7 linked regions of the Homo sapiens genome follow. The protein of the gene in region 5 purifies or fractionates together with the protein of the main gene of each other region. This does not show direct contact. Each region holds a gene or a part of one and is shown on either strand. Other genes may lie near its edges.

Region 1 (3,998 bases), on a different chromosome or scaffold from region 5:
AATTGTTTCAGATTCACTGCTTTAAAGGGTCTTCAAATATATTTTAACAGAACCTTACTTCATTCCAAATTATTATCAGATATTTCAAAATCAAAAAAAAAGTATCAGTTCTATACCAAGATAAAGGTGTTACTCAATACCTGAAGGGTCACATTTTAAATTTATTTTTTAGTTTTTCTTTTTTGTCAACAAATGATTGATGAAATAATGCAACACCCTTAAATTCCAGAAAATGGCATGGTTTTTCCAACCTCCTGTGGATATGGTGCATGATCAATCTATTATATAGGATTAATACAAGTTCATGCTTTTTGTGTTATGGTGAAACAACATTAAAGAATCCAATTTAGATTGGTTGAAGCACAAGTATAATAATCCTTGAATGTGATCAAACCTATTTAAGACACCAGTTTAAATCCATTATCTTGAGACTTAACGTCGTACTGTGGTCCATCCATCTTCATCAGTCTCATTTTTAGTACGACGGAGAGATTCCCTATCTTTCTCAGCTCTCCATGAGGCCTTCTCTTTTTCACCTTCTCTTTCTCGGTCTCGGTCTCTTTCTCGGTCTCTTGAAAGAGCTGGGGGAGGAACTCGACGAGGAGGGTCCCGCTCTTCCACCCGGTCATCTTTCCTGTCATCAGCACGTCTCCAAGAACTTACTAAAAAGTTTAATTAAAAAAAAAAAATTAAGTTAGTACTATATTCTATTGGCTCAAATTACTCAAAATTCCTGTACTAAAGATTGTTAAATACAGAAATCATTGTTAAATACAGAAATTCTGTTAAATTCTGTATTGTTAAATACAGAAATCATAATGAAAGCTCATACAATTTCTGACAATCTTTAACATACAAATGTACAGATAAAACTCAAAATCTGAAAACAGGCAGAAACCACTAGCCTGGGAAGGACTACAGTTAGTATAAACCCGTAAGACAAGGTGGCAAAAATCTGGCTGAATGAAAATTTTATAACTGAAAGGATTTTTGGCTCTTGAAGAATTTTAACAGCAAATTAACCATACAAAATACAGGAGTTTTTAAAGTTATGGCTATGAGAGAAAAATTCTCTCATAACAGGATGTCAAGACATATGGAAAATTAATTTTTAAAAACCAAGAGAAAAATGAGGATTTTAAAAATGAAAAATACATATATTTTAAAACAGAATAAACTTCTGTTACAATTTCAGAGAAAATGTTTCTACTTTGTGCTTAATCTGCCAGGAAGCTGCTTTTAAATAACAATTTTTTTCATTTTTATTAAGTAAACTTTATATATATTGCCTGCTATCCAATTTAGTCTACTACTGTACTTTGAATTTAGAGATAAGTGCACTTTACAACATGACCATTGAGTAACTGTATGAAAATCATGAATTCTAAATAGAATATCAACTCTCTTATTGTTGGCCTTCATACAAATTTATGATATAATTAAATAACCCAAATCCCCCCCCCCCCAGAAACGACAGTTCTCCAATACTTCAGTTGTATGTAACCTCTATACCTTCTTCACGTTCTGATCTGAGTGGAGGTCCTCTTCGGTCCCTGTCGTCTCTTAGATCTCGTCTTTCTCTTAGATCACGCCGGTCATCCCTCTCACGGCGACGGTCATCCCTATCCCTATCGTCCCGGCGACTTGAGTCTCTCCAGCTTGAAGATTCCTCAGCTGGTCCTCTTCTCCAGCCACCTTCATCCCTGTAGCCATTTACAATGACAGGTCAGGTTCTTACTGTTAGACCAAATGGATAATTATAAGTACATCCAGTCCAAGCTGGGGCTTAGAGTTTACAAATATAACAGACAGTTTAAACTCATAACCTGACCTTACCTGATGCCTGGGGCGTGGAGAACAAATGAGAACACCCAGATCTGTGCCGTCCCACTCGTTAGCCACTACCCATATGTGGTTACTTACATTTAAAGTAAAACGGAGATATTTCCTTAGGACCATCAACCATATATTCTAAGTGCTTGGCTGCCAAATGTGACTGCTGACTACCATACTGGCCAGCAGACACATTTTCTTCCTTGAAGAAAATTGCATCGAACACTGCTGGTCTACATTTGTCAGTACAAGGACACTTTGGCAGCGGGAACAAGCTAGAACTTCTACTACTAATAAAATCAAAGGGCTTTTGATAATTTAAGGGCAAGAAAACTGACTGCCCTAAACCACAGGGGTAAAAGCAACGGACTGACAAAGATGGCTGGACTGGTTCCAATGCCCAACGGGTCACACAGCCTTTGGACAGCCACGAAGTTTGGGCCTCCATTTTCTTACTTTAAGAGGGAATTTTTTTTTTTTTTTTTTTTTTTTTTGAGACGGAGTTTTGCTCTTGTTGCCCAGGCTGGAGTGCAATGGCGCTATCTCGGCTCACCACAACCTCTGCCTCCCGGGTTCAAGCAATTCTCCTGCCTCAGCCTCCTGAGTAGCTGGGATTACAGGCATGCGCCACCACGCCCGGCTAATTTTGTATTTTTTAGTAGAGATGGGGTTTCACTATGTTGGCCAGGCTGCTCTCGAACTCCTGAACTCAGGTGATCCGCCCTCCCAAAGTGCTGGGATTACAGGCATGAGCCACTGCGCCCGGCCTCTACAAATAATTTAATTAGAGCATCACACCTAGGTCTTCTGAAGCGATCCTCTCGATCCACATCTCTCTCTCTGTCCCTTTCTCTCTCAGGGTCCTTGTCATTCTCCTCCCGATCTTGATTATCTCTGTCCCTTTCTTTTTCTCTGTCCCATTCACGTTCTTCTGATGGCCTTGATTCTCGAGGTGGACCCCAGCTCTCCTCTCTGGCTTTTTCTTTCTCTCTCCATCCACCTGTTTTTTTGAAAAAGCAAAACATTTTTAAAATATTTTTAAAAGAAGAAACAGATTGGCAATCATGAATAGACGTTGGCATTAATTCATCATCATTCTAAATGCTAATTTAAGACACTGATTAAAAAAATACTAAAGCTGTGTACATCACTGCACAGACATCATTAACAGTATCTTAAACTTATATGAGAAACTTAAAATGGGCCGGGCATGGTGGCTCACACCTGTAATCCCAGCACTTTTGGAGACCGAGCCAGGTGGATCACTTAAGGTCAGGAATTCGAGACCAGCCTGGCCAACATGGTAATAACCCTGTTGCTACTAAAACTACAATTAGCCAGGTGTGGTGGTGCGCCTGTAGTCCTAGCTACTTGACTTAGGAGGCTGAGGCATGAGAACTGCTTGAACCTGGGAGGCAGAGGCTGCAGTGAGCCAAGATAGTGCCACTGTACTCCAGCCTGGATGACAGAATGAGACTGTCTCAAAAAACAAACAGGAAAAGAAAAAAAAATACCAAAAACCTTAAATGATCTGTGTTAAGTGTTCCATAAAACAAAAGTATCACTGAAAATTTTAGAATTTTTCCTATTGCACGCAGATTTCAGCATAGTATCTGTTCTGATGTTACACAGATCACTCATTTAAGCAGAAACTTCAAGAGTTTTCTCTGAGTCCCAATTTTGAGGTATTTATACCTTGCAACGTTTTCAAGCCCTTCATATCCAAAAAACAATCTTTCCTTTTATATTCCTGTCCTCCACCATTTGCCACCCATTATCTAGTCATTAATCATGAATAAATCCTTTAACCCTGCACAGTGGCTCACACTTATGCATGGAATATATGAATCTAGGAACATTTTATATACAGTACATATAGAGATGTAAATTTGCTGGTGACCTCACTGTTTAAAATGGCCTCCAAGTGTAGTGCTAAAATGCTGTCTAGTGGCCAGGCGTGGTGGCTCATGCCTGTAATCTCAGGAATTTGGGAGGCTGAGGAGGGTGGATCCCTGGAGCCCAGGAGTTCAAGACCAGCCTGGGCAACATGGCAAAACCACATCTCTACAAAAAAATACAAAAATTAGCTGGGCTTGGTGGTGTGCACCTATAGTCTACTACTCAGGAGGCTGATGTGGTAGGATCTCTTGAGCCCAGGAGGCAGA
Region 2 (3,998 bases), on a different chromosome or scaffold from region 5:
TTGTTGTTACAGTGTGTGTTAACCTCTGTGTGTGATAGGAATCCTTGGAGATCTTGTAGCAAAAATATAATGACTTTGAGTAAAAAATGGTGAGTATTATCACCTAGAGCCAAGTGAAAGGATACCTAGAAAACCACTTCTCAATGACAGGGCAAGTATAAAGCATCAGTTGGATTAAATTTTTATATGAACACCTACAGAATATATACTAGTTTTAAAGATATAAAGAAAGCTGCTTGCCCACCTCATAGTAAAGGTCTCAGGTGCTACTTTTCCAAATTCAGTTTCTTATACTCTCCTTACAATCTATTACTTCCTTTGCTTTTATCTTGAATCAGGTAGTATGGAAGTTCCAGAATCCCCTAAGTTGGGTGGAATGACCAAGAAGGGATATGGGTGCCTCCTATGGAGCTGTATGAGGAGAAGTGGGCCGGCCTGAGCCTTGCTGTGTCTTAAGTTGCTCTTTACAGTTTAGCTCTCAGGTGTTAGTCAATCTAAACTCTACACTCAGAGGCTAATGGTTATTTAAAATATTGTTAAATTCCTCTTTTCTACTCTGGATTAGCCAAATTGCTTATGTGAACTTGGTCAAGTTTTCCTGTAACATACCTATTAGTATTGGCTCATGCCACATACTGTCTATTGTATGGCTTCCTGTTATCTACTGCCTGTGATGTTGTTTTACTTAAAACTTTATAATGATTTCATTATAGTTGTGGCTCATAAACACTTCAGAACCTAGGAACAGTCAACTAAAATACTATGCTTTGCTTTTGTCCAAGAATTTTGAATGTCACTTATATTTTAGTTCAAACCATACTGCACAGACCTGAAGTTGGCAAGGAATTTTTCCACTGAAATTGTTTTTCACACTTAGGAAATGGATTCATGCTATCTAGGAAACAAATCCCTGGGAAACAGTCTGTGTACCAGGTTGCAAACGATGATTATTTTACCTTGTATTAATGGATACACAGGAAACTTAAAAGATATTTTTAAATCTCTGACCAAATGAAGAATTGGGTTTGTGTATATGTGAGAGAATTAAACTTGTGAATTGTTTTTAAGACAATTTTAAGTGAAAGTAAGACTACAATAATATATGTCATGTAGGCCAGTAAGAGTGGTGCTGAGTGCACCTCTTCTGTCCTTCACAGTTCTTACTGGACGAGGTCTACTGGATTTATCTAAACCTTTTCAAAGCAGATGTCTTGCTATTTTCTTAAAGTTTTTTGCTTTTACACTTTTTTAAAGCTTTAAATTTGTGATGCTATTAGTGTTATTTCATAATACATTGGCATTTTAATAGTTTTTAATGTCACTACTTCTTTTTAGAGTACACATATCTTCAGAATGGTGGTGCCCTGATAGGTGAGCTGTTTTACGCCTTAATGAAAATTAATGAAAGATTCAGTGCTGTACTGAAATCATAAAATGTGAAGAGCATTTACTATCAAAAATCAAGAACTGAGGATGTGATAAAACAGCCATGTTCAATGCAGTTGGTATAAATTGGTCCAAGCTATTTAGAAAGCTATTTAGTAATTTCCATTAAAACTTTTATGCCTTAGTGTTAATTATCGTACTTTCAGCTTCAATACCTCCACTCCTTACAAATCAATTTTTAGGAAGTCTGAAGTATAGTGATTTATATATGTTTATCATGGCATCATGTATTATGTTGAACAAATTGGAAGCTGCCTAAATGTCCTACAATAAGAAAGAAGTTAAGTAAGTTGTCCTGAGTCTGTAAAGGGGTGTTTTATGATAGCTAAAATTATACTTACAAAGAATATAACATGGAACAACTTTAGGTTTTTAAAAGGGGGCAGTATACAAAACTACAGTATGGTCTTAAAGAAAAAAATAACGTATTATAGAAAAAAGACTGGAAAAATCTATACTGGCATTGATCATGGTCTTATCTCTATAATATACATATATTATCTCGCTTTTGTCCCCCAGGCTGTAGTGCGATGGCACAATCTCGGTTCACTGCAACCTCTGCCTCCTGGGTTGAAGTGATTCTCTTGCCTCAGCCCCTGAGTGGCTGGGATTACAGGTGCCTGCCACCACACCCGGCTAATTTTTGTATTTTTAGTAGAGACAGAGTTTCACTATGTTGGCCAGGCTGGTCTTGAACCCCTGACCTCAGGTGATCCGCCCGCCTCACCTCCTAAAGTGCTGGGATTACAGGCGTGAGCCACTGCGCCCAGCCAGAAAATATATTTTTTAATTCACGTATTTTGAGAAGAAAGTACAATTTGAAACCAAGAAGTTTCCTTTCATTATTCTTAAAACGTTTTCAGAAGTAAAATATGTGGTTCTGCTAAAAGCAGTTCTTTTAGTTAAATGTTAAAGGCTGCACCATCTTTGTGTTTTTTAAACATAAATAACTTCTACTTTATTAGTTGTTAAATTAGAAAAAGTCTGTAATTTTACAAAATTCCTAACACTGTGGAAACAGCAAAAGTGATTTAACTCCTATTGAAGTCAGAAGCTTGCTTTTATATTTCCCATCTGATGATTCCAAATGTATACAGTTTTCTCAAAAGTTACCAATTATAATCCTTTTCTGTGTACTTTACAAGTTAAATGAGCAATAATTTAAAAAAATCATAATTTGCATCGAGTTGGTACCATCAAAATGATTTGAATTTGGTGAGGAACAAACTTGTTACTATTGTTTCACATTCATAGAAGGGAAATCTGGAATGAGCGAGTGCATTTTAATCAATATATGAAGACTGAATATGTAAAAATGACATAAATATAACTAAAAAATTATTTTATTGCCCTAACACTGACAAAATTACCTTGTTCTGGCAATTATCAGTGGGATTTTTAAAAGAAAACACTGCTGACTTTTCAAATAGTTATTTTACATGTTAAAAGAGGCCTTTATGTTTCTATTACAGATATTCGAGATATTTGGACCTGTTGCACATCCATTTTATGTGTTACGGTTTAATTCTTCAGATCACATTGAGAGTAAAGGTATTAAAATAAAGGAGACTATGTATTTTGCTCCATCAATGAAAGATTTCACTCAATATATATTCACAGAAAAACTAAAACAGTAAGTACTTTACCGGCATGTTGTTCTTCACTTACCTAACGTTTATATTTTAAGAATAATTCTCAGTGATGTAATTTCTTACAGTTATATTGTGTGTGTCTTGCAAAGAGTTCATTTATCTTCCTAATAATATCTTTGAAGCCTACAATTTATTTTCAGATTTTGTACGTAGAATTCATATCTTTTGTAAAAAATGAGATGATCAGCCATTAAGAGCACATTTGAGCCATGTACACTTTCTGATTCTAGTTCAGTGTTTTTTCCATTATGTACATTCTTTAATGTACTTACTATTTTAGTATTAGTACTAATATTATTATCATTTCTTAATAACTTTTTTTTCAGTTAAGTAAAATTCTCTTTGGATTCTATTTAGGGGCCTTGCTCTTCAATAAAACTTTAAAATAGTTTTCAAGAGAAAAAAAATGAGTGTTATCTCTTTATTTTGCTTATAAATTTTAAGTTTGTAGAAGAGACAACTAACACGTGTCCCTGAAAAATTGTGTAGAAAGTTACGGTGTATGGAGTTGACCTAACCAACAAACCAGTGCTCTCCATTTTGTCTATCAATAATGCTAAGTGATTTCTGTGGCATGTGACCGCAATATTTTTTTATATTTGTGCTCCCATTGGTTGAATATTTTTCAAATGTTAGCTGTTGCCAGCTGTTAGTTGTAGAGCTGTTTGTATCAGCTAAACTTGTTATAATTATGTTATTTAATTTTTTATATCAGCAAATAGCATATGAATTTAAGATTTTTTTTTAATAAAAATAACTTGAATGCTTTCGAATGATGTAATGAATATGAGCCACTAAAAATATTTTCAAATTGGGAGTGGAAGAAAAGACTGCCAAAGACTGGGGGAAGGTTAAATCCAGAAAGACTTTGCACTCAGTTTGACACAGAAGTTCCTTTTA
Region 3 (3,998 bases), on a different chromosome or scaffold from region 5:
AATTCCATGGCAGGGAAAGACATTTTGTTTCTGGCAGTTCTGCTGTGGGGACTTCTTCAGACATACACAAGGAAGGCCCCCAGTGACACAGGGCTGTTTCCACTTGTAGAGGATAAACTGGTTCCAAAGGAAACGTCAGGCAGCTAGTTTAGAACTGAACTGCCCTCCAAACCTCCATGTGAGATAAGATATGAATGTTAAAGAGAGAGAGGTGCCCTGATATAAACCGCCTGGGAATCTAAGGGTAGAGCTATTGGTCAGTAATTTTGCTTCTGGGTTTAAAACATTTTTAATTAGCTTTGGCTTCAGGTTGGAATTTGATCTCAAGTTCTTAGTTTCTTAATTGGATCACATTAGGAACCCCCAGATGCCACAGTCATCTCACCTATATGATGTTAGGTTAGAGCTGATGAAGACTAAGGTGGTCTCTCAGTTTCTGACATCCAGTGGGCCAACTTCCAGACTCCAAAGTGCTATCCACAGGAATTACCAACGGTATACCACCGCTACTGCAGGCAGAGCGGGCCCAAACTGACTTTGCTCTACTAGCTAAGTCACAGGGGAGTCTGTGTGTGTGTGTGCCAGAGTGAGCCTTGCAAAATACTGTGCAAAGATGAGATGCTGTTAAGGGAAGAGGGTGCCAGGGAGTAGGAGACCAAATATTGGTGGGATTTGGGGAGGGCGATGTGTGTCAGGAATCAGCTCCACAGCATCCTGGCCTGCAGCAGCATCTAGTGTTCAGACCCTCTGGAAGTCAGACCTTCTGAAAGGCAATGAAGTGCGCTCTGGCACCGCCACTGTGCCATGGAGTGCCTCACTCGGAAGCTGAGCTGGCAGGGGCTAGGAAGTGACTGATGACCTGAGGGCACACGTGTGCAGATCACACAGATGGGCCATCTCTTGCCTACCTTGGAGCCTGTGTGAGAGCCTCCTTCCTTCCCTACAGCATCTAGATCAGTCACACCTCGGCTGAATTCCAGGACATCATTCCCTGGAAGTGGGACCTCCACCGCATCGATGTCAGTCTCCTCTGCAGTGGCCGTGGAGGCCCTCTCGGCTCCAGTGAGCTGGCGGCCTGCAGGAACAACAGGGGAGGGAGGGAAGAGAATGAAAACACCGAGAACAAAGTCCTCCTTTCCTAATACTTTAGCTTTCAGGCATGTTGAGCCTAGGGATGCCACTGGCTTTGTAACATTTTCACACATCTTTTCACTCAAGTACGTTAAAGTGCATTTCCAGCCCAGTAAGATGTTCTCATCTTAGTATCTTTTCAAAGTCCAGAAAAAAAGGCAATACTTCCTCAAGCCTGGATGTAAAAGTTTTGCCAGGTTCACAGGAATATATTGACAAGGTACACTGGAAGAAGGGGATGCTGATCATCTCCATGTCATCGCAGCTCAGGAACGGAAGCAGTCAAGGGAAAGGGCCCTGGCCCGGGGGTCCAGAAATGAGGAGGTTGGGCCTCCAATAAACTGCTGGACAAGAAGCAAATCCCCTCACTCTCTGGGCCATGTTTCTTTAACTACAGAATTAGAAGCTCAGTTAGATGGACAGGTAGGGTTCCATGACTGAGGAATAAGGCAGGGAGATGTGAGGCTGCATTTTAACACAGTATCAATCTCCCAGCCCTCAGAGCCTGATCCTCTCACCAACAGCAGAAGCCAGGAAGACGCCTGCAGGAAGTGGCACGGGGAGGAGGAGAGAGATGGGGTGGCTGCTTTTCCATGCTTCCTTATCTAATTTTTCTACTTCCCACATTTCTTCCTTTCCACTGAAGACAATGGCCATGTCTTTACTTAATATTTAACCACAGGCACAGCATACTGCTTAATACCAATGTATGAAAGCCCTGCTATTTCCTACTTATCTTCCTTCCTTGATCCTATTTCTGGGATTCTGTAAAAACATCTGACAACTCCTGGGCATTTCATAGGAAATATTTTCATTTTCTATATTTGCAATTAGGTTAATTACTGCCGTCTTTAAATAAGATTTCTCATGAGTTTTCAGAGACCACGCACCAATTATAAAATGGAACAGGTGGATGTAAAGCAGGAGACACAGAGCTGATGCCCCAGTGCTGAAGCTAGCCCAGGCAACCAGGCCTTGGCCATTTGAGTGCTTGCCTTGTAGAACAAATTGTTCTAAGAAGTTTTCCTATGCAAACCTACACAAGTCATCAAGGGAAACAAGCCTGGCATTTAGAAAGTAAACAGTGGGCTTGGTTTTCTTCCTGGCTACTCCAGGAGCTGAGGAGACAGTCCTGTGGAGGGCTGCAAAGGCGTTTAACAGAAAAGATGGTTCTGACTGCAGCTAGTGGGGGCAGGGAAGGGGAAGCTCTTCTGCCCCTTGGTCAGCCAGTAGGCGGGGAGCACAGGGAGCAGCCTGCTTTCTACCACAGCCTGCACCTGGAAGTGACCGTCTTGATGGCTGGGTGCTTAGCCTGAGAGATGGAGGGTCGGTAGGTGGGTGGTGCTGGGAACTAAGCGTTTGGTTCTCCATGCCTGTACAGGAAAAAGCAGGGTGAAATTTCTATCAGTGATCAGGAGAAGCTGGGCTACTGCAGTGTTCTGTGCACTTAGCACATGATATTGGATGTGCCTGGCCATCAGTCTTCCCTTACAGACTTGAGGCCAGGCTGTGTCTCATTCATGTTTCCTAAAAATGTTTCTCTGGCACAGAGAAAGTGTTCCATAAATACTGACAAAGTAAGTAATGTAGTGACAGGGTAGCAAAACAGGAGAACAGGCTGCAGGAGAAGGCTGCTTATCTACTTCCCATCCCTGGAGATCCTAATAACAAGAACTAAGAAGCCCCAGACACAGAGGGTTTGGACAGGGCCTCGCCAGAAGCCCAGGTGGAATCAGAAAATTTGTCAGGTTTGGCCGGGCGCGGGGGCAGGGGCAGAGAGGCACAGAGGCAGGAAGTCCACGGCATGTCAGGCAATGCAAGTGGTCCCGTAGGGAGGGACCTGACCAGGACGAGTCAGCATTTTATCTTGAGGGACTGAAAGCAAGTAATACCAAAACATTTTCATCCTTCAAAATTTCACTCTAGATATAGTATGGAGGATAGATCCAGCAGCAATGAGAGAAAGTGATACTCTAGGTGGAAAATATGAGGGCTTGAGTGAAGACAATGGCAATAACATGGAGAAGAGATGGATTCGAAGGATCGTCAGGGGGCAGAAAGCACAGGGTTTGCTTGTCTGTGGTGGGGGCGGGGGTGGGGATATGTGCAGGATGAGTCTTAAAATATCTGATTCAGGTGACTGAATGGAGAATGGCATCCTATAGGAAAAATCCAGGAGAAGCAGGATTGCAGGTAAGAAGATGAGTTCAGTTTTAAACCTGTTGACATTGTAAGAGTCTGTGTAACAGTCAAGTAGGGATACCTATTAGGCTGTTGGGTATGTTATGGACTGAATGTTGGTGTTCATATGTCGAAGCCTTAGCTCCCAATGTAATAGCACTTGGAGATGAGCTTTTGGGAGGTAATTAGATCATGAGAATGCAGTCCTCATGATGGGATTCATGCCCTTATAAGAAGCGATGTAGGAGATCCCTCTCTTTCCACCCTGTGAGGACACAGCAAAAAGGCAGCTGTTTGCGAACCAGAAGAGAGTTCTCACCAGGAACCAAATTGGCTGGCACCTTAATCTTGGACTTCTCAGCCTCCAAAACTGTCAGAAATAAATGTTGTTTAAGCCATCCAATCTACTGCATTTTATTATGGCAGGCTGTGTAGATTACTATAGTGCATGAATGGAAAGTTCAGGAAAAAGGCCTGGCCTAAAGATAAACTTTAGTTGAAATCATGGAATGTCAGAAAAAAAAAAAAATACCAGGGGCAAGTCCAGGAGAAATTCCAACACTTAAGGGGTAGGTAGAAGAGGAGCCTGCAGGCCAGGCGCGGTGGCTCACGCCTATAATTCCAGCACTTTGGGAGGCCGGGGTGGGTGGGTCACCTGAGCTCAGGAGTTTGGGACAAGCCTGGCC
Region 4 (3,998 bases), on a different chromosome or scaffold from region 5:
CTAACTGAAACAGAAACAGCTTCTGACCTAATAGAGTGTTAGGAAAAGGTAGATAACCTTATTCCAAGACAATAGGGTTTAACTTTGTAGTGGTCTCATGTTCATCGTGAGGTTTTATTTTATTTTATTTTATTTTATTTATTTTTTTGAGATGGAGTTTTGCTCTTGTTGCCCAGTCTGGAGTGCAGTGGCACAATCTTGGCTCACTGCAACCTCTGTCTCTTGGATTCAAGCAATTCTCCTGCCTCAGCCTCCCAAGTAGCTGGGATTACAGGTGCCTGCCACCACACCCAGCTAATTTTTGTATTTTTAGTAGAGACGGGGTTTCACCATATTTCCAGGCTAGTCTCGAACTCCTGACCTCAGGTGATTCATCCTAAGGATTTAATGAAAGCTACTTATCCCTAGGGGGAAAATGCACCTATGCAAAGTAATATACAAGGTGATATGTACAAACAAAGGTTATTTTGTTAAGGAGGTTATATTGAGCTGAATGCTTCTCCCAAATAGTCCTGCGTCCTGCTTTTTCTGTCTGGCAGCATGAGTAGATCTGTTTCTTCTTTGACTGGACAACCCTTCAAATATGTGAAATATGTAATCATGTCTCTTTACATGGGATAAATATCCTTCATTCTATTAAGTGTTCTTGGTGCATTTTTTCCCCCATACTTATTTCTGTCTTTATCATCCTCTTTTGGACACACCATTGTCTGTCAGTGTCCACTAAAGTCTTGTCCAAACTAAACACATCTTGGCTGGGCACAGTGGCTCACACTTGTAATCCCAGCACTTTGGGAAGCCAAAGCAGAAGAATTGCTTGAGGCCAGGAGTTTGAGACCAGCCTGGGCAACATAGTGAGACAACTATCTCTACAAAAAAAATTTAAAAATTATCAGGCATGGTGGCACATGCCTGTAGTCCCAGCTACTCAAGAGGCTGAGGTGGCAGAATTATTTGAGCCCGAGATTCAGGCTGCAATGAACTGTAATCACACCTCTGCACTCCAACTTGGGCGACAGAGCAAGACCCTGTCTCAAAAAATGTAATAATAAGGAAAAACAACATGTCCCACATATTGTGTAGCCACTTAGGCACTATGTTTGTCAGGGCTGCCATAACAGACTAGGTGGATTAAACAACAGAAATGTATTTATTTTCTCAGTCTTGAAGGCTGAAAGTCAAAGAACAAGGTGGCAGCAAGGTTGGTCTCTTTTTGTTTGTTTGTTTGTTTTTTGAGGCAGAGTTTCGCTCTTGTTGCCCAGGCTAGAGTGCAATGACGCAATCTCTGCTCACTGCAGCCTCCGCCTCCCAGGCTCGAGTGATTCTCCTGCCTCAGCCTCTGGGTAGCTGGGATTACAGGTGTGCACCACCACATCCGGCTAATTTTTTTTTTTTTTGTATTTTTAGTAGAGGTGGGGTTTTGCCATGTTGGCCAGGCTGGTCTTGAACTCCTGACTTCATGTGATCGCCTGCCTCGGCCTCCCAAAGTGCTGGGATTACAGGCGTGAACCACCGCACCCGGCCTAAGGTTGGTCTCTTCTGAGGCTTTTCTCCTTGGCTTGCATAGGGCCACCTTCTCCCTGTTTTCTCACGTGGTCTTTCCTCTGTGTGTGGGAGTCCCTGGTGTCTCTTTGTGAATCCAAATTTCCTCTTATAAGGACACTAGTAAGATTGGATTACGGCTCACCCTAATGGCCTCAATTTAAATTAATCACTTCTTTAAAGGCCCTGTCTCCAAATACAGTCACATTCTGAGGTACTGGAGTTTAAGGTTTTAACATACAAATTTGGGGGCAGAGATTCTCCCCATAACTGGCTCCGTATCTTTGGGTTGCGGTAATGGGAATATGGAAGGACTTAACTTCTTTTTTTTTACTGTTCAGTGTAAAAATTAATACACAGGAATAAATCAGTTTTTTTTTTTTTCTTTTAGCCAAAATCTGAAGATGAAGAAGGCTGGAAGAAATTTTGTCTGGGTGAAAAGTTATGTGCTGACGGGGCTGTTGGACCAGCCACAAATGAAAGTCCTGGAATAGATTATGTACAAGTAAGGGCTGTGTGGATAAACAGAACAAAAAGCATTTTAATTTTGGTGCACCACTTAATATAAGGGGTCAGCAAACTCTACCCTGGGCCAAGTCCAGTTCATGGCCTTTTTTATATCCATGAGCTAAGGATTGTTTTTAGGTTTTGAAAGAGTAAAAAAGAAACAAATAATATGTGGCTGAGACTTTATGTGGCCTGCAAAGCCTAAAATATTTGCTGTCTGACTCTTGATAGAAAATGTTTGCCAACCCAGACTTAGTTTATTAGCTCTTCAACCTAACAAAACAGCTTAGTTTCTGAAACAATTTACTGTGACTTTTTTTAGTTTGGCTTCATATCCCTTATGTTTGGCTTGGTAATCATTTTATGAGTTGGATAAGATTCATAGTTTTTTTAAATGATGAGGCATCAGGCAAACAGTGTTATGAGTAGCCAGGGAAAAAATGGAAATCGACACAATTAGATGCTTTAAAATGCATAATCACATCTATCACTTCATGGGCCTGTAAAAAATAAATCACATATTCTAAAGATGAAATGTTGAGGATATCTTTAAAATTCATGTGGCTGTAATCATAAGTTATGTAGACAACTCCTTGTCCTTCAGGATTTACCTGCCCCCAAGTTTGCAGGTGTTCCTTGAGAATCCAGTGCATGCCTCTGCATTAGCGCTTACTCCCTATAGCATGTAGTTCTTTTCAGTTCAACAGGTATTTATTATTTGCTATATGGTGCCACATTGTGTTTTTCACATTTAAAACTAATTTTTCCTAAAAATGTAAAAAGCCCCAAGAATCAATAAAAAGACCAAGAATCACCCCTCCCCTGCCCAAGAAAAAATAGCCAAAGGATATAGATACCTCACAGAAAGGAAATAAAATTATTCTTATATGACAAGATGCCAAAAATCACTTGTAATAGAAGTATAACATAACTATGCCAAGGTGCTATTTTTCAGGTAACATATTGGCCAAGAAAGTTTGATACACCATATTGACAAGAGCTGGGGAAACAAGCACTCTTAGACGTGGTACAGGAGTATAAATAGACTCAAATCTTAGGGAAGTTAATTTGGTACTCTTTCTATATAACCAATTGATCTTTTGGATGATATCCTTAACATATGCTACATTTCAAAAATAGCTATATATATATATATATATATATTTTTTTTTTTTTTTTTTTTTTTTTTTTTTGAGACAGGGTCTTCTTCCGTCATCCAGGCTGGAGTGCAGTAGTGCACTCATAGCTCATTACAGCTTCAACCTCCTGGGCTCAAGCAATCCTCCCACGTCAGCCTTCAACATACCAGGGGCAGCAGGCACCCACCACCACACCCAGCTAATTTTTAAATTTTTTGTAGCGATAAGTTTTTTAATTTTTTAAAAAAATTTTTTTGTAGAGAGAAGTTTTCACCATGTTGCAAGGTTGGCCTGAAACTCCTGGGCTCAGGCAATCCTCCTGCTGGGATTATAGGCATGAGCTATCATGGCTAGCCAAAAATGGTTTTTAATTTATAAAGAATTAAAACTTACTTATTTAGCTTATTTTCAGAGAATACATACAAGTAAAATACACCATGTTAAAAAAAACCCTTAAGGAAGTAAGCGTTTAATGTATATCCTCTTAAGTTTCTCACAAATCAGTGGTATTTTCATAATTAGCAATCACAGCCTCAGACTCCAAAGTAGACTTTTAAAAATTGAATCAAATTAGGTTTTAAAAATGTCATTCTAATTCAAGTGTCCTTAATTCTTGAAAATATTAGCTTTAGCTGAAGATTTTGAAATGGTGTATACAACATATTAATGTCATCTTATCAATGTTACAGTTTTATTGGATATACTTAATAAGTTAGTTTTTTCAAGTACTATCATGTAAAAAATTTTTAGTCTTTAACATTTTACTTACTAAAATCATACTTTATTTAAAAATTTACAAATTCAGACCAG
Region 5 (3,998 bases):
GGAGGATTGCTTGAAGCCAGGAGTTTGAGATCAGCTTGGGCAACACAGCAAGACCCCATCTCTACAAAAAATACAAAAATTAGCCAGGTGCAGTGGTGCACACCAGTGGTCCCAGCTGTCCAGCTATTTGGAAGGCTGAGGTGGGAGGATCACTTGAGATCACGCGTTGGAAGCTGCAGTGAGCTATGATCATGCCACTGCGCTCCAGCCTGGGTAACAGAGCAAGACCAAACAAACAAACAAACCTAAAAAACAAACCAAAAAATCCTGCCCTGTAATTTACCAGCTGTGTGAGCTAGAGTCACAAGTCTTACTCTGTTTTTCCACCTGTGAAATGGGGACCATTGCCTTCTCAGATGTGGTAGATGACAGATGGGTCAAAGGGGCCAGGTTTCCTGGAGTGTCTGCCTCCTCTGAGCTTCTCCTGCTGCTCCCCAGGAGTGTGACCACTCCAACAACGACCGTCTAGAGGGGGCTGAGATCGAGGAGTTCCTGCGGCGGCTGCTGAAGCGGCCGGAGCTGGAGGAGATCTTCCATCAGTACTCGGGCGAGGACCGCGTGCTGAGTGCCCCTGAGCTGCTGGAGTTCCTGGAGGACCAGGGCGAGGAGGGCGCCACACTGGCCCGCGCCCAGCAGCTCATTCAGACCTATGAGCTCAACGAGACAGGTGGGGGGGGTGGCACGGCCAGGTCGTGGCACCTGAAAGGGCTGTGTTCCCAGCTAAGCGGGTTCTGCTGCGGGCTGGCGCGGGCATCATCTCGGGCAGGTTACCTCACCTCCTCCAGACTCAGCTTCCACATGTGTAAAATGGCACAACAGTTTGTCTTCCTCCCAGGGTCTGGTCGAAGGTTAAGTGGCATGACTTACATGGAGTCTAGTCAGTAGATTGTCTAGTCATTATTCCTAAGCTGAGTGGGCCTTGGGGGCATTGGAAGCTGGACATGGGGGATCCCTATGTGGCCTGATGCCCTCTCCTGCCACCCCTGCAGCCAAGCAGCATGAGCTGATGACACTGGATGGCTTCATGATGTACCTGTTGTCGCCGGAGGGGGCTGCCTTGGACAACACCCACACGTGTGTGTTCCAGGACATGAACCAGCCCCTTGCCCACTACTTCATCTCTTCCTCCCACAACACCTATCTGACTGACTCCCAGATCGGGGGGCCCAGCAGCACCGAGGCCTATGTTAGGTACTGTAGCAGGGGGTGAATGTTTCCGGGAGCCCCACCTGGGGAGAGACATGGGCTGGCTTCCTGGGGCCTTCCTGGCCCAGCCTGCCTGCTGCCCTGCTCTGTGGCACTCTGGCAACACCTTGCCCGTCCACCCATCTGTCCACACACAGGGCCTTTGCCCAGGGATGCCGCTGCGTGGAGCTGGACTGCTGGGAGGGGCCAGGAGGGGAGCCCGTCATCTATCATGGCCATACCCTCACCTCCAAGATTCTCTTCCGGGACGTGGTCCAAGCCGTGCGCGACCATGCCTTCACGGTGAGCCCCTGGGATGCCCAGCCCCAGCCCCACAGCCTTCCCAATGACCTCCGTCCGCACTCACATGCCAGCTGCCCTCCGTCCTTCCAGAGGAAACCCTTGCCCAGAGAATCATTCATTCACCAAGTGCTGCTGGGATAAGTGGCCAATGGGGTGGCATAAAGCTGAATGAGATGCCACCCTCATATTTGGGAAATATGTTCCCTCTCTCATATTTGGGAAATGTCCTAAAAATCACAGAGTTTCCAGAAGAAAACCTTTGGGGGAGGGAAGGACATTTTAATCATGACTTCCAAAGAATAAATAAGCTGTAAGAGAAGCTCACCAGTGGCATCTGCATAAACACTGCAACTTTGGTCACAGTGTGCAAATCTTCCCATCAGCAAATGATGGGAGGAGAGTTTTCACATCACTGACATAGTCAATGTCATTCACATGTAAAAAGCATTTATGGGACCAGGTGCGGTGGCTCACACCCGTATTCCCAGCACTCTGGGAGGCTGACGCGAGGATCACTTGAGGCCAGGAATTCCAGACCAGCCTGAGCAAATAGCTACATCCTGTCTCAACAAAAATAAAAATTAGCTGAGTGTGGGGGCATGTGCCTGTAGGCTGAGTTACTCAGGAGGCTGAGGTGGGGGGATCACTTGAGCCCAGGACTGGAGAACACAGGGAGACTGACTGTGCCACTGCACTTCAGCCTGGGTGATGGAGAGAGACCAAAGCATAGACAACAACAACAAAAAATCGGCCAGGCGTGGTGGCTCTCACCTGTAATCCCAGCACTTTGGGAGGCTGAGGTGGGCAGATCACCTGAGGTCAGGAGTTTGAGACCAGCCTGGCCAACATGGTGAAACCTCATCTCTATTAAAAATACAAAAATTAGCCGGGTGTGGTGGCGGGCGCCTGTAATCCCAGCTACTTAGGAGGCTGAGGCAGGGAGAATCGCTTGAACCCGGGAGATGGAATTGTAGTGAGCTGAGATTGCACCACTATACTCCAGCATGGGCGACAGAGCAACACTCCATCTCAAAGAAAAAAAAAATAATTCCTGCAGCCGCCCTCAGCCTCCTGGACAGTCTGCTGCTTCCCTGGGTTCTCCAGAGCCCTGCCTTTGCCTGCCTGTCCTGAAGGGTCTGGGAGCCAGATGTTGGGAGATACTGGCAGAGGGAGGGGAGTGGCTCTGAGCTGCTGCCCTTCCCCCCACAGCTGTCCCCTTACCCTGTCATCCTATCCCTGGAGAACCACTGCGGGCTGGAGCAGCAGGCTGCCATGGCCCGCCACCTCTGCACCATCCTGGGGGACATGCTGGTGACACAGGCGCTGGACTCCCCAAATCCCGAGGAGCTGCCATCCCCAGAGGTGACGCCCCCCAGCCCCTAGCCTGGGTGGAGGGAGGTCTGGTGGGAGTCCGCCTCCCCGCACTGCTCGTGCCACCTCTGTGGCTCAGGACCCCTCACCTCTTGCTGCCTTAACTTTTCTCTGTTCCTCTGTTCATCTGAGGTCTGCCATCCCCTGGTCTTGTCCTTCTGCTGCCCTCTGGCTCTCCATTCTTGACTAGACCCCCCCACACACACACCCTCTTCTGTAACCTGGCTTTGCCCTGCTGGCCCTGTGTCCCTGCCCGTAGAGTCCTGCAGGCTCTGCCATTCCCACCTGCAAGGCCCCGCTTGACACTTTCTCCACCTGGAAGTCCCTTCTCGGCCATCCACACTTGCCAAGCGTCACCTGCTTAGAATTCAGCTCAACTTCAGCCGCCTCTTCCTGTGGCCTTATCCACTTCCCCAACTCTCGGGCCTGAGGCGGCCTCCTGCTCTCCCCCAGACACCAGAGCGCGTCCTCGGCTCTCTCCAGACATTTATCCTGTCGGGCTCCTTGAGAAAACTCTCCTCCTACTTCCAATCCCCAACATGCAGGCAGGGTTGACTCACCCTCGTGTGTGTGTGAGATGTGATTTTTGTTATTACTGTGAAAATCACACCCGTATGGTAAAAGAAAACTGAGCTGTACTAAGGGACGCGATGAGCAGTGCTCCCCTCCCTCCACTGACCTGTCCTCTTTCACAAGAAGTAACCATCTCTAACTTTCTTGCATGTCCTTCAAGAATTTCCCCACACACATTACCTGTGTACATATGTGTACTGTCTTCTCTTTTAAATGGTACCAAAAAAGGACATGTGATTCCAGGTTGTAGCCTCACTTCTTCCACGTAAGATCTTCTTTGAAGAGGGTCCCTTTCCTTTCAGTCCTGAGCTGTCGCGTGCATTGTAGTGGCTGCTGTGTATATTCTGATGTTGAGGGACCTTATTAAGCATCCCTTCCTGATGGCCTCCCGGGCCATTCTCCACTCTTTCCTATTAGAAACATCGCTCATCTCTGTGTCTCCTTTCCTGCCTCCCACCCCTAGCCAGCCCCTCACAAGGCGGTGGTTGAATAACTGACTGACTGGCTGCCACAGGGGCGAGAAGGCCTAACCCTTCATCCTCCACGTTGGCCCCCACAGCAGCTGA
Region 6 (3,998 bases), on a different chromosome or scaffold from region 5:
GCTAGAGCACGAGGTGGTGGCCAGGAGCCGACCAACCCCACAAGACTATGAGATGCGAGTATCCCCCTCTGATACTACCCCTCTGGTTTCCCGGAGTGTTCCACCAGTCAAACTGGAGGATGAGGATGATTCGGACTCTGAGCTGGACTTGAGCAAGCTGTCACCATCTTCTTCTTCTTCCTCATCCTCATCCAGCTCCAGCTCCAGCACTGATGAGAGTGAGGATGAGAAGGAAGAGAAGCTAAGTGAGTGCATGTGACAGGCTGTTGGCCCCCTTCCCTATTTCCCCCTCTCTTCTCTTTCCCTTTTCTAAATGCATCCTCTTGAGAGAGATTTGGATTTTGATTTGATAAAATGTCAAAAGAGTGCCATTCTTTGGGCCTTTATTCAAAGCCCATATAATACCATTACCATATGACATTATTCTTCCATCTTTTCTCACACATTCTATGGGCTCTCTTACCAGCTGACCAGTCCCGCTCAAAGCTCTATGATGAAGAGAGTCTCCTGTCCCTCACTATGTCCCAAGATGGATTCCCAAATGAAGATGGAGAACAAATGACCCCTGAGCTTCTGCTACTGCAGGAAAGACAAAGAGCCTCTGAGTGGCCCAAGGTAACAAACAGCCTCATCCCTGGACATGTAGAGTCCAGAAATACAGTGTAACAGTATATCCGGGGAAAAAGGAACATATGGTTCTGGATTTTTAAAATTGTGTTTATTGCTGCAAGTTTTTTTTTTTTTTTCCAGGAAACTTCCCAGTTGACTTAGGAATCTTAATAGTATTAACTTCCTCTTTTCTGCCTTATGATTTTTACCCATCCTGGTAGTGATGGCACTATTGAGTATCACAGGATCACACAGCTAGTACTCAGACTCTTAAAATGGTATTTCTTTCTTTCCCCATTCAGGATCGTGTCCTGATAAACCGTATTGACCTCGTCTGCCAGGCTGTACTCTCAGGGAAGTGGCCTTCTAGCCGTAGGAGCCAGGAAATGGTAACAGGAGGAATTTTGGGGCCAGGCAACCACTTGCTAGACAGTCCCTCATTGACTCCTGGAGAATATGGTGACTCTCCAGTCCCCACACCACGAAGTAGTAGTGCAGCTTCCATGGCAGAGGAGGAAGCATCTGCAGTCAGCACAGCGGCAGCCCAGTTCACCAAACTTCGCCGAGGCATGGATGAAAAGGAGTTTACAGTTCAAATCAAAGATGTAAGCTCAGCATTTGGGCATTGGGAAGTGGGGAAGGAGGCTGGAATCCTTGCTGTAACTAATTTTACTAATAGGTTACTAAACTCATTTGGTTAGCTAATTTTAAAAATGAGAAAACAGAGCTTACAAAGATCCATTTAGGAAGAATCATTTTTCCTGGTTGTTTTCCTTATTGAACCCTATTGATTATTAATCCTATTAATATTCAACAAAAGTTTCTTAAATTAGTATGCTTAGGAATAGCAGGATTTTGCCCCTGTGATGAGTTGCCATGCTAATACGGAGACACCAGGTAGGGAGTTTTACCCTAACTTGGGTGTTGTTGAAATAAACTCTTTCTCGTAAATGCTGAGGGGCACTAGGTGAAGAAGTGAAATCTTTCTAAGGAAAAAGTGTGTATGTTTTCTTGTATTTCTAATTTTACCCTTTAGTCAGATGGCCTTCCTTCTCACCATCATTGGGCAAGAGGATGACCTATAGCCCACATCCCTCAAAGCTTAATCTTTACTTTGAAAAACATGTACCATATGATGTCTTGGGTGGGTGGGTTGTCTTCCTAGGAGGAAGGATTGAAGTTAACATTCCAGAAGCACAAGTTGATGGCGAATGGAGTAATGGGAGATGGACATCCACTGTTTCATAAGAAGAAGGGGAACAGAAAGAAGCTAGTAGAGGTGAGTGGTAGAGAAAGTCTTTAACCTGACGATTAGATTGTCTTTTTATTCCCAATAATTGATGAAGGCAGTGGGACTGGGGGAATGGAAAATACTAGAGTCATTTCATGACTACCATTGGCCCTGCTCCCCCTCCCTCCCTCCCCCAAAGAAGAGTATGTGCTCATGGGGGTGGATTCTGGGTTTGCAGCTGGAGGTGGAGTGCATGGAAGAGCCTAATCACCTTGATGTGGACCTGGAGACCCGGATCCCTGTCATCAATAAGGTGGATGGTACTTTGCTGGTGGGTGAGGATGCCCCTCGCCGGGCTGAACTGGAGATGTGGTTACAGGGTCATCCAGAGTTTGCTGTTGATCCCCGATTTCTAGCGGTGAGTGGCAGTCCCATCCAGCAAGATTTAAAGTCATTCCTTTGGTATTTAAGCTGCATGAGAAAGAGAAAGCATGACATACTGTATCATCGTTTCTGTATCTGCAAGATAAGGGTAATAATTAATAATACCCAGTCTTCCAACCTCACAATTGTTGTGATGCCCAAAATAAAATAATGTTGAAGTACTTTAAGTGCTAGGCAAATATTTACTATTGAACTATTATATAAACCACCTAATATTTTTTGGAGAGATCCCACTTAATGGCAGTTTTCCACTAGGATGAATCCTTTATCTATGTAATAAGTGTTTATTATCAAACAAAAGACACTAGTACTTTAATAATTACTCCAGAGAAGATTTCTATTCCTCTAGGATAACTGATTTTTTCTATTGCAGTATATGGAGGATCGCAGAAAACAGAAGTGGCAAAGATGTAAAAAAAATAATAAGGCAGAATTGAACTGTTTGGGAATGGAACCAGTACAGACAGCTAACTCTAGAAATGGGAAAAAGGTGAGAGAAATTGCAGCATTACCACTCTATTCCCACACTAGATGTGAGATTACAAGTCTTTCAATGATGATTGTGACTAATGTTATTTATCTTTTTTCCTATGTTTGTTTGTGTGAAGAATTATCTTGAGTTCACCAATAAGGAAACCGGAGTTTTCTGGGGTTTTTTTTTTTTTTTTGAGACGGAGTCTCACTCTGCTGTCGTGCAGTGGCGCAATCTTGGCCTACTGCAACCTCCGCCCGCCGGGTTCAAGCAATTCTCGTGCATCAGCCTCCTGAGTAGCTGGGATTACAGGCACCTGCCACCGCGCCTGGCTAATTTTTGTATTTTTAGTAAAGATTGGGTTTCACCATCTTGGCCAGGCCGGTCTTGAACTCCTGACCTCGTGATCCACCCGCCTCGGCCTCCCAAAGTGTTGGGATTACAGGCCTGAGCCACACTGCACCTGGCCCAGAGTATTTTTATCAGTATTTTTGCAGTCCTGTGGTATCTTCATCTCTAGGAGAGCATAACATTCTAAAAACTAACTTTAGTACTTGATGCATATGAAAATTTAAGAATTAGTAAGATGGGTTAGAGAGAACATTCAGATCTTACTCTGTTCTTCTATTGAATAACTAAGGGATTTTGGACAAATCCTTTAACCTCTTCAGTTTTTACATCCTGAAAAGTGAGGGTTTTAAAGCAATTTCTTAAGTTTTCTGTTTTTTTGAGACATGGTCTCACTCTGTCACCCAAGCTGGAGTGCAGTGGCACCATCTCAGCTCACTGCAACTTCTCCCTCCCCTGGTTCAAGCCATTCTCCTGCCCAGCCTCTCAAGTAGCTGGGATTGCAGGCGTGCACCACCAGGCCAGGCTAATTCTTTGTATTTTTAGTAGGGACGAGGTTTCACCACGTTGGCCAAGCTGCTCTGGAACTCCTGGCCTCAAGTAATCCACCCGCCTTGGCCTTCTGAAGTACTGGGATTACAGGCTTCAGCCACCGCACTCGGCCTTAAGTTTTCTAATTCTATATATTTTAGAAGTGTTTGGAGAGGTCTTCTAAGGAAAATAGTCATGAGATTTCCCAATATATAAAGGTTGAGAATCACTAATAATATGTCAGTAATGGAAAAAGCAGAGGAAACTGTTTTGTAATTCATAATAAATTTGTCCATTAAGTTATTCTATATTTTCAAATTTACTTATACTTTTATGATGGATAATAGGCCATTTGGTGGACTA
Region 7 (3,998 bases), on a different chromosome or scaffold from region 5:
TTAATTGTTATAAGATTTTGCCAGATATTCTTCATTGGAGAGATTCTAATTCTTTATGTTTCATGATTCCTTAATCCCTTTTGATAGAAGATAGATCCAGAGATGGGTTGAAGAGAAACTCCAGTGAAATGGTCTTTTAGGAACTCAGGAGCTGAGTTCTAGTTCTCTACAAAAGTAGAGAACTTACGATTTCTTTATAGGATTATAACTAGTTTTTAATATTAACACATAATTGCATGTGTGTAATCGTACATGCAACGTGTTTTGTACTTTTTAGGTTGACAGGTATTCACATCCTACTAAATGATTGTTTAAGTTAAGCTATTTTGCTAATAGCGACCTTAGAATATCTTATAGTTCCTAATGTTACCTAATTTCATCACAGGCAATTTGAGTATAGCTAAAAGCCAAAAGAACATATTTCCTACAACCATTGAGTTTATACATTAAGAAATTGAATCATGGAATAGGCATTTTTAAAGTCATTTGGAATTTGATAGCACAGGAGTAAATAATTTTTATTTTTATTTAAATTCACATAGAGTAGCATGTGGTAACCCAATATTTTGATACTTGAAGTGGTTTTTTTTTGAGATTCTATTTTTATTATTAAATGTAATTGGGTACCGCTGTGCAGTCTATGTAGTCTAGTTTATGTAGTCCAGTAATTTTTTATAACTATCCAAGCAGTCAAAACTTAATGAAAAAAAGTTAAACTTAGAAAATTTTTTCTGGACTTCTTGAAAGTCCTTCCTATTGTTGAGACATGCGCTGCAGCAGGGCTTTCATGTCTAAGTTAAAACATAGCATGGAAATGTGGCCTAAAAGAAATTTGTGAGTAAATAAAATTTGGTATATACTTTAATCAGATGAAAGTGTAAAAACTTTCATATTATTAAAATAGTCTCTTGTTCCGTTAACATGAAAAGGAGATTGTATATTTATGTATGCAAGTCAGAAAATCTCTAATAAAGTAAGCAAGTGAGCTGCAGAACACTAGTCATGAAAGCCCAATATACAATGAAAACAATGATTGCTCAGCTGTGAAAATAATTTTTGGAGTCAAGTAAAATGTTAAGCTTGTTAGCGTTTGCTTATTAAGTAGGTTAATGCTGTTTAGAAAATGACCAGTTGCAAAGACAAAGACAATGCTGAAGTGAATGTTTGCATGACTTGCTTTTAGTTTTGCTTGCTCCTTTCTGATTAAATATTTTTCCCCCTCCTAAATGCAGGGCTTCAGATAACAGGGAGCGTGCTTATGAACATAGTGCCTATGGACACCATGAACGGGGGACGGGAGGATTTGATCGGACAAGACATTACGATCAGGATTACTATAGAGATCCTCGAGAGCGGACTTTACAACATGGGCTCTATTACGCTTCTCGGAGTCGAAGTCCAAATCGCTTTGATGCTCATGACCCCCGATATGAACCTAGGGCTCGCGAGCAGTTTACACTGCCCAGTGTGGTACACAGGGATATCTACAGGGATGATATTACCCGGGAGGTACGAGGCAGAAGGCCAGAGCGGAATTACCAGCACAGCAGGAGTCGGTCACCACATTCATCCCAGTCTAGAAATCAGTCTCCTCAGAGACTGGCTAGCCAAGCATCTAGACCCACAAGGTCCCCTAGCGGCAGCGGCTCTAGAAGTAGATCCTCCAGTAGTGATTCAATCAGCAGCAGCAGTAGTACCAGCAGTGACAGGTAGGTTAACAGCCTTTTGTTATAACAGATGAGCTAGCTTTAAACAAATTCTCAACAATCAGTGGGAATGGTTTCAGCATAGTATTATTTTTTAAAGTAATCTTGGATCATATATGTATGTAATCAGTAAAGAAACTGGCATGTGGCCATTGAATTAACTGTTCTAAGTACTCGAAGTTAAGTGATGATTTGCAAAGTTCTGTTTCATCCTCCAGATGCACAGTATTAAAATTAAATGATCAAAGTGGAAGGGAGGTGGTGACTCTAGCTGTGCAAGGCAAATCTTGTGACACTGAAAATATGGTATCTCTTTAACATTTTTAATTTTGTAGGTGTATAATACCAATTTATTTCTATTATTTTGATTGAAGATTTGTAAAAGCTGTTTGGTTAAATATGTATTGGTGAAATATAATATTGTTGACACATTTATTATCAATGACTAGATCAACTTATGAACAAATTTTAGCTAATTTTAACATCAGGGTGGTAGCCAATTTATAAACTCAAGTAGAAAAGCTTCCTTTGAATGCAGGTTGTAACTTTACTGTTCTGTAAACTGATCTCACTAGTTGAGAATTTCTTTCTACAAATATATATATATATTTTAAAGACAGTCTCACTGTGTCACCAAGGCTGGAGTGCAGTGGTGTAGCCTTGGCTCACGGCAACCTCTGCCTTCTGGGTTCCAGCAGTCCTCCTGCCTCAGCCTCCCAAGTAGCTGGGATTACAAACGTGCGCAACCACGCCTGGCTAATTTTGTATTTAGTAAAGATGAGGTTTTGCCATGTTGGCCAGGCTGTTCTTGAACTCCTGACCTCAAGTGATTTGCCCACCTCATCCTCCCAAATTGCTGGGATTACAGGCATGAGCCAGAGTGCCCAGCCAAAAAGTTTTATTTGAAAAGCGAAAATAGTAAGTTGAGGGTAATCTTAATAAGAAACTTAGCTTCAAACCTAGTTATATGGATTTTGAAATCACAGATCTGGGTATGTGGTATAGATTATCCTTTAAGTAATCTAGGATAAGTTATTTATGTTCTTCAGGTCTCAGCTTTCCCTTTTTTTTTTTTTTTTTTTTTTTGAGATGGAGTCTCGCTCTTGTCACCTAGGCTGGAGTGCAATGGCGTGATCTTGGCTCACAGCACCCTCCACCTCCTGGGTTCAAGTGAGTCTTCTGCCTCAGCTTCCCATGTAGCTGAGATTACAGGCACCCATCACCATGCCAGGCCAATTTTTGTATTTTTAGTAGAAACGGGGTTTTACCGTGTTGGCCAGGCTGGTCTCTAACTCCTGACCTCAGGTGATTCACCTGCCTTGGCCTCCCAGAGTGTTGGGATTACCAGTGTGAGCTACTGCGCCTGGCCAAGCTTTCTCATTTTTAATAAGGACCTTAATAAAGTTATTGTGAAAATTAAAATGAACACTTAATGTAAAATGCTTACTTTGATACCTAGTATATGTTAAAAAAAATGCTGCTATTCAATTTGTTAATCCCACATGTCCTGCTTTTCAATTTAGGTGGTATATATTTAAAATTTACAGTCAAATTCTTTGACCTGATTAAAAGGCTCAGATTACTTTTCTTTTGCCTGCTTAAAATTAATTTAAGCAAATGGTCATGTAGTTGAATGTCTGTTTTTAGGCTTCCTGAATTTTCTTATTCAAAATAATACATGAAAACATTTTGTTTATCCCTCTGCCTATCTAGATATAATTCAAACATTCTGGAAGATTTGCATATTAAAATGAAACAAGCACCTAGTTTAGAAAGTCATGAAAGTTACGTTCTATGCCCAGCTTTCAAGCCGTGTGACATGGATGAAAACTCTTAACTTCTTTTGATTTTATTTGGTGTGCTGTCTAGATAAATGATTGATGAAATTCATTTGAACCCTATAAACTAATTATAAAATCTTGTTCCACTTTTTTTTCTGCATAGAATTGTCTAAAATGCTCAAGTTTTAGTCATTTTCCATAAACCTACCTCATTAAAAAGCTGCATCTGCATTCCACTGGATCAAAACTTATTGAAAAGGTGTTGAGGCACTGGGCGTGTGGCTCACTCACGCCTGTAATCCCAGCACTTTGGGAGGCTGAGGCAGGTGGATCACCTGAGGCAAGGAGTTCGAGACCAGCCTGGCCAACATGGTGAAACCCTGTCTCTACTAAAAATACAAAAATTAGCCAGGCATGGTGGCACATGCCTGTAATCGCAGTTACTCAGGAGGCTGAGACAGGAGAATTGCTTGAATTCGGGAGGTGGAGGTTGCAGTGAGCAAGCCACTGC

The links.
Region 1: the proteins of PLCD3 (region 5) and EIF3A purify together in Homo sapiens (affinity purification with mass spectrometry; one large-scale study listed by BioGRID and IntAct). This does not show direct contact.
Region 2: the proteins of PLCD3 (region 5) and NAF1 purify together in Homo sapiens (affinity purification with mass spectrometry; one large-scale study listed by BioGRID and IntAct). This does not show direct contact.
Region 3: the proteins of PLCD3 (region 5) and NOS1AP purify together in Homo sapiens (affinity purification with mass spectrometry; one large-scale study listed by BioGRID and IntAct). This does not show direct contact.
Region 4: the proteins of PLCD3 (region 5) and GEMIN2 purify together in Homo sapiens (affinity purification with mass spectrometry; one large-scale study listed by BioGRID and IntAct). This does not show direct contact.
Region 6: the proteins of PLCD3 (region 5) and CHD8 purify together in Homo sapiens (affinity purification with mass spectrometry; one large-scale study listed by BioGRID and IntAct). This does not show direct contact.
Region 7: the proteins of PLCD3 (region 5) and SPEN purify together in Homo sapiens (affinity purification with mass spectrometry; one large-scale study listed by BioGRID and IntAct). This does not show direct contact.

The regions. Positions count from the first base shown.
Region 1 is NC_000010.11:119,035,607-119,039,604, forward strand, and holds part of EIF3A (eukaryotic translation initiation factor 3 subunit A), read right to left. Parts: intron 2,834-3,998; coding exon 2,632-2,833; intron 1,704-2,631; coding exon 1,513-1,703; intron 663-1,512; coding exon 433-662; 3' UTR 1-432. UniProt on the Homo sapiens protein: RNA-binding component of the eukaryotic translation initiation factor 3 (eIF-3) complex, which is required for several steps in the initiation of protein synthesis.
Region 2 is NC_000004.12:163,139,304-163,143,301, reverse strand, and holds part of NAF1 (H/ACA ribonucleoprotein complex non-core subunit NAF1), read left to right. Parts: intron 1-2,918; coding exon 2,919-3,079; intron 3,080-3,998. UniProt on the Homo sapiens protein: RNA-binding protein required for the maturation of box H/ACA snoRNPs complex and ribosome biogenesis.
Region 3 is NC_000001.11:162,352,264-162,356,261, reverse strand, and holds part of NOS1AP (carboxyl-terminal PDZ ligand of neuronal nitric oxide synthase protein), read right to left. Parts: intron 1,076-3,998; coding exon 909-1,075; intron 1-908. UniProt on the Homo sapiens protein: Adapter protein involved in neuronal nitric-oxide (NO) synthesis regulation via its association with nNOS/NOS1. The complex formed with NOS1 and synapsins is necessary for specific NO and synapsin functions at a presynaptic level.
Region 4 is NC_000014.9:39,120,497-39,124,494, forward strand, and holds part of GEMIN2 (gem-associated protein 2), read left to right. Parts: intron 1-1,933; coding exon 1,934-2,047; intron 2,048-3,998. UniProt on the Homo sapiens protein: The SMN complex catalyzes the assembly of small nuclear ribonucleoproteins (snRNPs), the building blocks of the spliceosome, and thereby plays an important role in the splicing of cellular pre-mRNAs.
Region 5 is NC_000017.11:45,115,484-45,119,481, reverse strand, and holds part of PLCD3 (1-phosphatidylinositol 4,5-bisphosphate phosphodiesterase delta-3), read left to right. Parts: intron 1-438; coding exon 439-667; intron 668-989; coding exon 990-1,191; intron 1,192-1,343; coding exon 1,344-1,488; intron 1,489-2,697; coding exon 2,698-2,850; intron 2,851-3,895; coding exon of another isoform or gene 3,896-3,925; exon of another isoform or gene 3,926-3,973; intron 3,974-3,991; coding exon 3,992-3,998. UniProt on the Homo sapiens protein: Hydrolyzes the phosphatidylinositol 4,5-bisphosphate (PIP2) to generate 2 second messenger molecules diacylglycerol (DAG) and inositol 1,4,5-trisphosphate (IP3).
Region 6 is NC_000014.9:21,389,723-21,393,720, reverse strand, and holds part of CHD8 (chromodomain-helicase-DNA-binding protein 8), read left to right. Parts: coding exon 1-245; intron 246-466; coding exon 467-615; intron 616-911; coding exon 912-1,214; intron 1,215-1,467; exon of another isoform or gene 1,468-1,570; intron 1,571-1,774; coding exon 1,775-1,888; intron 1,889-1,914; exon of another isoform or gene 1,915-2,078; coding exon 2,079-2,258; exon of another isoform or gene 2,259-2,311; intron 2,312-2,657; coding exon 2,658-2,774; intron 2,775-3,998. UniProt on the Homo sapiens protein: ATP-dependent chromatin-remodeling factor, it slides nucleosomes along DNA; nucleosome sliding requires ATP. Acts as a transcription repressor by remodeling chromatin structure and recruiting histone H1 to target genes.
Region 7 is NC_000001.11:15,874,970-15,878,967, forward strand, and holds part of SPEN (msx2-interacting protein), read left to right. Parts: intron 1-1,232; coding exon 1,233-1,709; intron 1,710-3,998. UniProt on the Homo sapiens protein: May serve as a nuclear matrix platform that organizes and integrates transcriptional responses. In osteoblasts, supports transcription activation: synergizes with RUNX2 to enhance FGFR2-mediated activation of the osteocalcin FGF-responsive element (OCFRE).